Linked DNA regions of Homo sapiens. The protein of the gene in region 2 interacts with the protein of the main gene of each other region in a biochemical or structural test. Each region holds a gene or a part of one and is shown on either strand. Other genes may lie near its edges.

What was found. The genes of interacting proteins can lie anywhere in the genome.
Region 1: the proteins of TRIB2 (region 2) and ACACA form a complex in vitro, tested with the Homo sapiens proteins (one study listed by BioGRID).

The regions. Positions count from the first base shown.
Region 1 is NC_000017.11:37,400,083-37,403,836, forward strand, and holds part of ACACA (acetyl-CoA carboxylase 1), read right to left. Parts: intron 1-3,754. UniProt on the Homo sapiens protein: Cytosolic enzyme that catalyzes the carboxylation of acetyl-CoA to malonyl-CoA, the first and rate-limiting step of de novo fatty acid biosynthesis.
Region 2 is NC_000002.12:12,719,833-12,723,586, reverse strand, and holds part of TRIB2 (tribbles homolog 2), read right to left. Parts: intron 328-3,754; coding exon 35-327; intron 1-34.

The DNA.
Region 1 (3,754 bases), on a different chromosome or scaffold from region 2:
CTTAGCAATTTTCAAGCATATATATATTTTTGTTTGTTTGTTTGTTTTTGTTTTTGAGACAGGGTCTTGCTCTGTTGCCCAGGCTGGAGTGCAGTGATGCAATCTTGGCTCACTGCAACCTCTGCCTCCCGGGTTCAAGTGATTCTCATGCCTCAGCCTCCTGAGTAGTTGGGATTACAGGCATGCACCACCACGCCTGGCTAATTTTTGTATTTTTAGTAGAGATGGGGTTTCACCATGTGGGCCAGGCTGGTCTCAAACCCCTGACCTCAGATGACCCACCTGCCTCAGCCTCCCAAAGTGCTGGGATTACAGGTGTGAGCCACAGTGCCTGGCCTCAAGTATATATTTTTAACTATAGTCACCATATAGTATAATAGATCTCCTGCACTTATTCCTGCTGTCTAACTGAAATTTTGTATCCTTTGGCCAAAATCTTCCAATTCTTTCTCTCTCATCCCCTGGTAACCACCATTCTGCTACTTCTACAAGCTTGACTTTTTTAGATGCCACACATAAGTGAGATTAAGCAGTATTTGTTTTTCTGTGCCTGGCTTATTTCACTTAGCATAATGTCCTCCAGGTCCATCTATGTTGCTGCAAATGACAGGATTTCCTTATTTTTTAAGGCTGAACAGTATTCCATTGTGTGTGTGTCTGTGTGTGTGTGTGTGTGTGTATCTATATCTCACATTTTCTTTATTCATTCATCCATTGGCATACATGTAGGCTGTTTCCATGTCTTGGCTATGGTGAATAATGCTGCAATGGATATGGGAGTACAGATACCTTGACATGCAGATATCATTTCCTTTGGATATATACCCAGAAGTGGATTATTGGATCATATGGTAGTTCCATTCAAAAATTTTTAAGGAACCTCCATACTATTTTCCAAAATGGCTGTACTAATTTACATTCCCACTGACAGTGTACAGGGTTTTTCTCCACATCCTTGCCAATGCTTATCTCGCTTTTTGATAATAATCATTCTGACAGGTGTGAGGTGATATCTCATGGTAGTTTTAATTCACATTTCCCTGATGATTAGTGATGTTGAACATTTTTTTCACATACCAGTTAGCTATTTGCATGTCTTTTTCTTTTGTTTTTCTTTTTTTTTTTTTTTTGAGACAGAGTCTTGCTGTTGCCCAGGCTGGAGGGCAATGGTGTGATCTTGGCTCACTGCAACCTCCGCCTCCTGGGTTCAAGTGATTCTCCTGCCTCAGCCTCCTGAGTAGCTGGGAATACAAGCGCCCGCCACCACGCCCAGCTAATTTTTGTTTTTTTAGTAGAGACAGGGTTTCACCAGGTTGGCCCGGCTGGTCTCGAACTCCTGACCTCAGGTGATCCACCCGCCTCGGCCTCCCATGCTACTTGCATGTCTTCTTTTGAGCAATGTCTTTTCAGGCCCTTGTCCACTTATCTGATGTAGGGGTCGTGAATATTTTCTCCCATTCCGTAGGTTGTCTCTTTACCTTTTTTTTTTTTTTTCCAGACGAGGTCTCACTCTGTTGCCCAGGCTGGAGTAAAGTGGCACAATCACGGTCACTACAGCCTCAACTGTCTGAGCTCAAGTGATTCTCCTACCTCAGCCTCCCAAGTAGCTGGGACCACAGGCGTGTGCTATCATGCCCAGCTAATTTTTTGATTTTTTTGTAGAGTTGAACTCTCACTAAGTCACCCAGTTTAGTCTCGAACTCCTGAGCCCAAGCAATCTTCCCACCTAGGACTGTCAAAGTGTTGGGATTACAGGCATGAGCCACCGCACCAGGCCAGAAACTCTACGTTTGATTCTAACCACAGCAGCTTAGCAGCTGAGGACAAACTGTTGGGATATTTTGGTCTCAGTCAATGGCAGCCAGGTTACCAACCCTGACAAGATACAAGTTTTCTTCGTTGGGTTCCTGGTACAAAAGTCAACCTTTTCAGTTACTTATGAATGAAAGGGCATGAAGATTGTGCTATTAGTTTATCCTGAAGGTCAATCTTCAAAAATACTGGTTCAACATGGATTTGGATATTATTAATATAAATTTATGGCTTAAAGAGGACAAAAGGTGTTTTTTTGGGTTCCTTTACAGAGATATTTAGTGAGGGAACAAGGCACTTAGTCATCTTTGCTATGACAGGTTAAATACAAGGTGTACTGGGAACATGTAAGAGGGTGACTTAACTCAGCCATTGGGGGGTCAGGAGAAGTGTTCCTAAGGAAGTGATGTCTAAGTGAGGTAGGCAGTACCTTGGCAAAAAAAACCTTGAAGTTAAGAGTGCATATGAGAAATGAAGGTATGTCCACCTGGCTGGCAAATGGAGTCTAAGATAGGGCAGTGATGATAAAGATATAGGAAGATGCTAGATCTGGAAGGGCCTTCTAAAAAGAATGACAATATAAATTTATTGTACAAATGGAGACTTTACTGAGAGTGAAACCAGGCAATATTAATACTTAGGTAGGGACAACAGATATAAACCAGGCTATTCTCAGCAAATCAGAAATTATGGTCACCCTACTTGTAAGTCACATTCAGGTGCTTAGACTTTCAGTGAAAGCATAGAGTATGTATCTTCTACATTTTGCCTAAGTGACTTCATTCTTTTTTTTTTTGAGACAGAGTCTCGCTCTGTTGCCCAGGCTGGAGTACAGCGGCACGATCTCAGCTCACTGCAAGCTCCACCTCCCAGGTTCACGCCATTCTTCTTCCTCAGCCTCCTGAGTAGCTGGGACTACAGGCGCCCACCACCACGCCCGGCTAATTTTTTGTATTTTTAGTTGAGATGGGGTTTCACCATGTTAGCCAGGATGGTCTCGATCTCCTGACCTCGTGATCCGCCCGCCTCAGCCTCCCAAAGTGCTGGGATTACAGGCGTGAGCCACTGCACCCAGCCAGTGACTTCATTTTTACTTTTGCCTTTACTTACTCATTTCACAAGTATTTGAGGATACACTTCAGAGCACTGAGGTTACAAAGACAACAGTGTCTGTCCTCAAGGTCTGTCTAGGTAAGACACACAGCCAAATAAACAATTCTAATACAGTTATACAGTTTTAGTTCTGACACCTCCAATGAGCTGTAGACTTGTATTTGTCATTTCCAGTCAGAATGCAAAACACAGATCCAAAACAGAACTTTCAATTTCTCCTCCAAATCTATTCTTCCTTCAGCTGGTCGTGTAAGTGATGCCACTATCACATCCACTTAAGACAAAAACCCAGAGGAGTACTGCCTTAATCAGTAATCAGTGTTACCCTTCTTCTCACTGTGCATGTTAATTTTGCCACATCTTTTTTTTTTTTTTTTTTTTTGGTACAGTGTCTCACTCTGTCACCTAGGCTGGAGTGCAGTGGTGTGATACTGGGTCAATGCAGCCTCAACCCTCTGGGCTGAAGTGATCCTCTCACCTCAGCCTCCTAAGTAGCTGGGACTACAGGCATGCGCCACTACACCTGGCTAATTTTTGCAATTTTTGTAGAGACGAAGTTTCACCATGTTGCCCAGTTCTCATGCCTCCTTGAACTCCTGAACTCAAGTGATCTGCCTACCTTGGCTTCCCAAAATGCAGGGATCCCAGGTGTGAGGCACCGTGTCCTGCCCTCTCCACATCTTTCTTAAGCACACTGACTAAATTGGTCTAAGTAGAGCCTAACATCAACTGAAGGGAGAGGGTAATTTCCAGGTAGTTGAATGCTATGATTTTTGTTTTTTTGTTTTTGAGACAGACTCTTGCTCTGTTGAACAGGCTGGAGGGCAGT
Region 2 (3,754 bases):
CACAGTACCCAGGTCTGGACAGGATGAGACCTACCTCTCTTCGTCCTTAAAGATGAATTTCCGCAGCTTGAGGTCCCGCAGCACCAGCCCCCCGTCATGGCAGTGGGCCACTGCCGAGGCAATCTGGTAGAACAGTCTGGCTGCCTCCTCCTCTCTCAGCTTCTTGCAGGTGCGGACGAAGGAATGCATGTCCCCATAGCTTCGCTCAAAGAACACATAGGCTTTGGTCTCACCCAGGATAATTTCAGTGATTTGGTTGATGTTACTATGAGCAGACAGGCAAAAGCACGGTGCCAGGGATTCCTGGTAGCAGCTGATATCAAACACCTACGACAGGATTAACAGTAAGACCAAAGTCAGAGGTGCCTCTTGTACAACCAAAACACATAATGCTGCACCTCCCACAGGTATGGGCTTTTGAGATGACAGAAAATATGCTGAACTTGGACCCAGACCACATTGGCCCTGCCTCCTACCAGCTGTGTGGCACTAAACAAGTCACTTAACCTCTCGGAGCCTCCAAATCTTTACGTACAACATGGGAAACTGATACTTGACTCACAGTGTTAGGAGGATTATATGAGAAAATGAAGGTGATAGTGCTTTGCAAAACGTAATGCAGTACAGAAATAATAATTTTCATTACTTTTGTCTCTAGCCCAATTGCGTGTTTATAGAACTAAGGCAAAATTGGAGAGAAAGTGATCCACCTCAATGACATCAACAACACTTTATTTGCCTTCAAAAATAAAAAAAAAGAAATGCACATAAACAGGCATTATACAACACATGAGCAACTAAGAGAATAAACAGCTAGCTTTTGCCCAGTGGTCTCTAATTCAATACTTTCATTTTACAGATATGGAAACTGAGGCTCAGAGAATGAGCCAAAACTCAAGCCCCCAGTGGCAGAGGTAGGAATATGATAGAATCCTTCTGAATAGGGAAGCAGCCTTGCTTCTTCCTCTCTTCCCTCCACAGATATCTAACTCAATGAACCAGTTATGCAATGATTTTCTATGAATCAAAATTAGCCTGCAAAATGCCAACTCATTGTGCGGTTGCTTAAAAAGAAAAGGCACCATCAATACCTTTTGAAACAGACCTAACAGCAATTAACACTACAGAGAATTTTTGAGGTTATATAAAAGGCGCTTTCATTCATTTCAAGACCTCCACTAAATCAGGAATACAAGTCCCTGGGTCTGGAATGTGGTTTTTCTATCTGCCTGGGATGTGGGTAAGATGAATCTATTCAGTGTGTGCGTGAGCCAGGGGCATGCGTGGGTGAGCTTCGCTGGAAAGCATCTGAGGCAGGAACGCCCTAACAATACACTGCATGCTATCAGTTCACAATGATTTAGCTGCCTAAATCGCTTTTTCACTAGTTAGACATACTTTCTTTCATCATCATTTTGCAGTGTGGTAGGAAATATGCTGGACTGGAAGTCGGCAACCTTGAGGCACTAATCCTGGCCCTGCCACCAATAATCTGGATGAGATGGATAAAGAGCTTAGGGTTACTGGACCTCCCTCCTCTTCATAAAATGAAGATGTTGATTTAGAACAGTGTTAACCTTTTTTGGGTCCTGATGTCACATAAAATCTGATAAAAGCTCTGTTCCCTCTTAGCTGACAATGCCCGTTCTCAAATGCATGCACGATACCGGATTCATTTTAAGGGGATTCACGGGCTTTCTGAAGCCCATCCAAAGCCACAGACTGCTATTTAAGAATCCATGAGTTAAGTTGCTCTAAGCTTCAAAAAATTGAAACAAAATCTGTGAGTCAAACAGGGATGTAAAACCTCAAGAGTTGCTGCTAACACGGCCAAGGAAGCAAAGTTAACAGTAATGTTGTGAATGAACCATAACGAGGCATCTCAGAAAAGCGGCACAGCTGCTGCCACTATAACCTAGAATTTAAGAAAGAATACTTCAACATCTCCAGAGACCACAAATCACACACTGATACTGTCAAATGATGACCCAAGAGCAGTGACCTAAGAGGCCTGTTCAATTAGGAATCTGAAATGCTTGAATCAACTTTAACACCCTGAATGCAGGCAACAGAAACCCAGGGAAGCCTCAAAAATTTCGAGGAGTAATAAGCTTTGCAGTGGCTAACGTAAACACTGCATCATATAATGAAGATGCTGTGTTCTGAAATACCAGGTTGCAGCTTCTGTCGCCAGTGCTCACAGAGTTATGATTATTTATAATCTACTTCCTGTTTCCAGGTGCATTTACAAAAACATAAAAGGTGACTTTTGCTCAGCACTTTTAGCCTATTATCCTGCTCCACTGCTGAAAAACTGGAGACAGAATTTTTAAAAAACTAACATATTTGTGGCAGCTTCAAATGTAGCCATACCTTTTGTAGAAGAGACCAAATTCCAAGATGGTGGACAGAGTATGAAAAATAAAATAAGTACTTATGTTTTCCCACACGAGAAGGAGCCAAACTTTTATTAGTAGCTATCAGGGGCATTTAGGGGCTTGGACTGGTATTTAAACCATCATCTTCACGTGCAAAATCAAGCCACAAGCCTGGTGCCAGCTTCTTTACATGTTTAATTTGGAGCCTTGGTTATGTAATGTGACAGTTCAGATAAGGCAGTAAGATTAGGCCATCATTAATAACATTTGCAAAAAAAAAGTACCCATTCTGCCAAGATAGTAATTATGTCAATCTGCACAGTAGCTACCAGTATCTCCATGAAAACATACAGTTAAAGACTCCTTAAAGTGCCTTCATTCATCTAGCAAAAGTAGGTACATGGAGACAATAAGCAGCCTTGATTATTTTGTTTAAATGACTCTGGAATCTCTATTCCTCCAAATAGTGTCCTATGGAATTCTCTACGCAGTCCCCTATAATAAATAGCATCTTTACATTTGATCTGTTTTTGCAAAGAATTTTTTCATTGGTCAACACACAGCTAGGAAACATGAGCCTTCTATTCTAAGACATCAAAAGGAACTAGATTCAATGTGTAGATTTCACTGAGCCTTAAAGTAAGCTAAGAGACCACAGCATATATATCTCTCAGGGCAGTTCAGAGAAGCAGCCTTATAAAACTCTCTTGGAGCTTCTTCGGAGATACACAACTATGCTTGCATAAGAAGTCACCCACATCATCTATGGTAAAAAGTCAGGAAAACAGAAGCTGCTGTGTCTTAAAGGGATGACCTCTGTCAAGCAGAACAATGATACTGCACTTAAATCCACTTGCAGCCACACTGTAATTGGTGAGGGGCTGATTCAATCTTTGCAATAACTAAACCAGCAGATTAAGTCCAATTTGAGGCCAGAGCACAAGTCTGCAAATGACACTGTAAGGTCAGCCCAAAGTGAAATATGTCTTGCAAAATCTGGAGAAAGAATGAGCAGAGGCCAGAGTCACCTCTGATTTTAAACAAAGAAGTAACAGCCAGATGCCCCTGCAGAATTTGGCTGCAGAGTCCCTATACTTAAAAGCATCTCCAGCCTTTGAAAAATATTAAAATGCTGTACTGAAGTTGAGCAAAAGGAATGAAAATATTCACTGCTGGGTGATTGTGCATATTTCATACAAGAGTGGCAGTTCTGTGGAATTCATTCATTTCAAAGGATGACTATCCTATTGTGCAACCTTGCAGACTTCTGAGAATTCAATCCAGCTACTGAATTTTGGTTAACTGGGCACAGTTGCTCTGGGTCTCAATAACTTAGAGAAGATGCAAAATACCAAATGCTCAGTACAAGCAAAGGG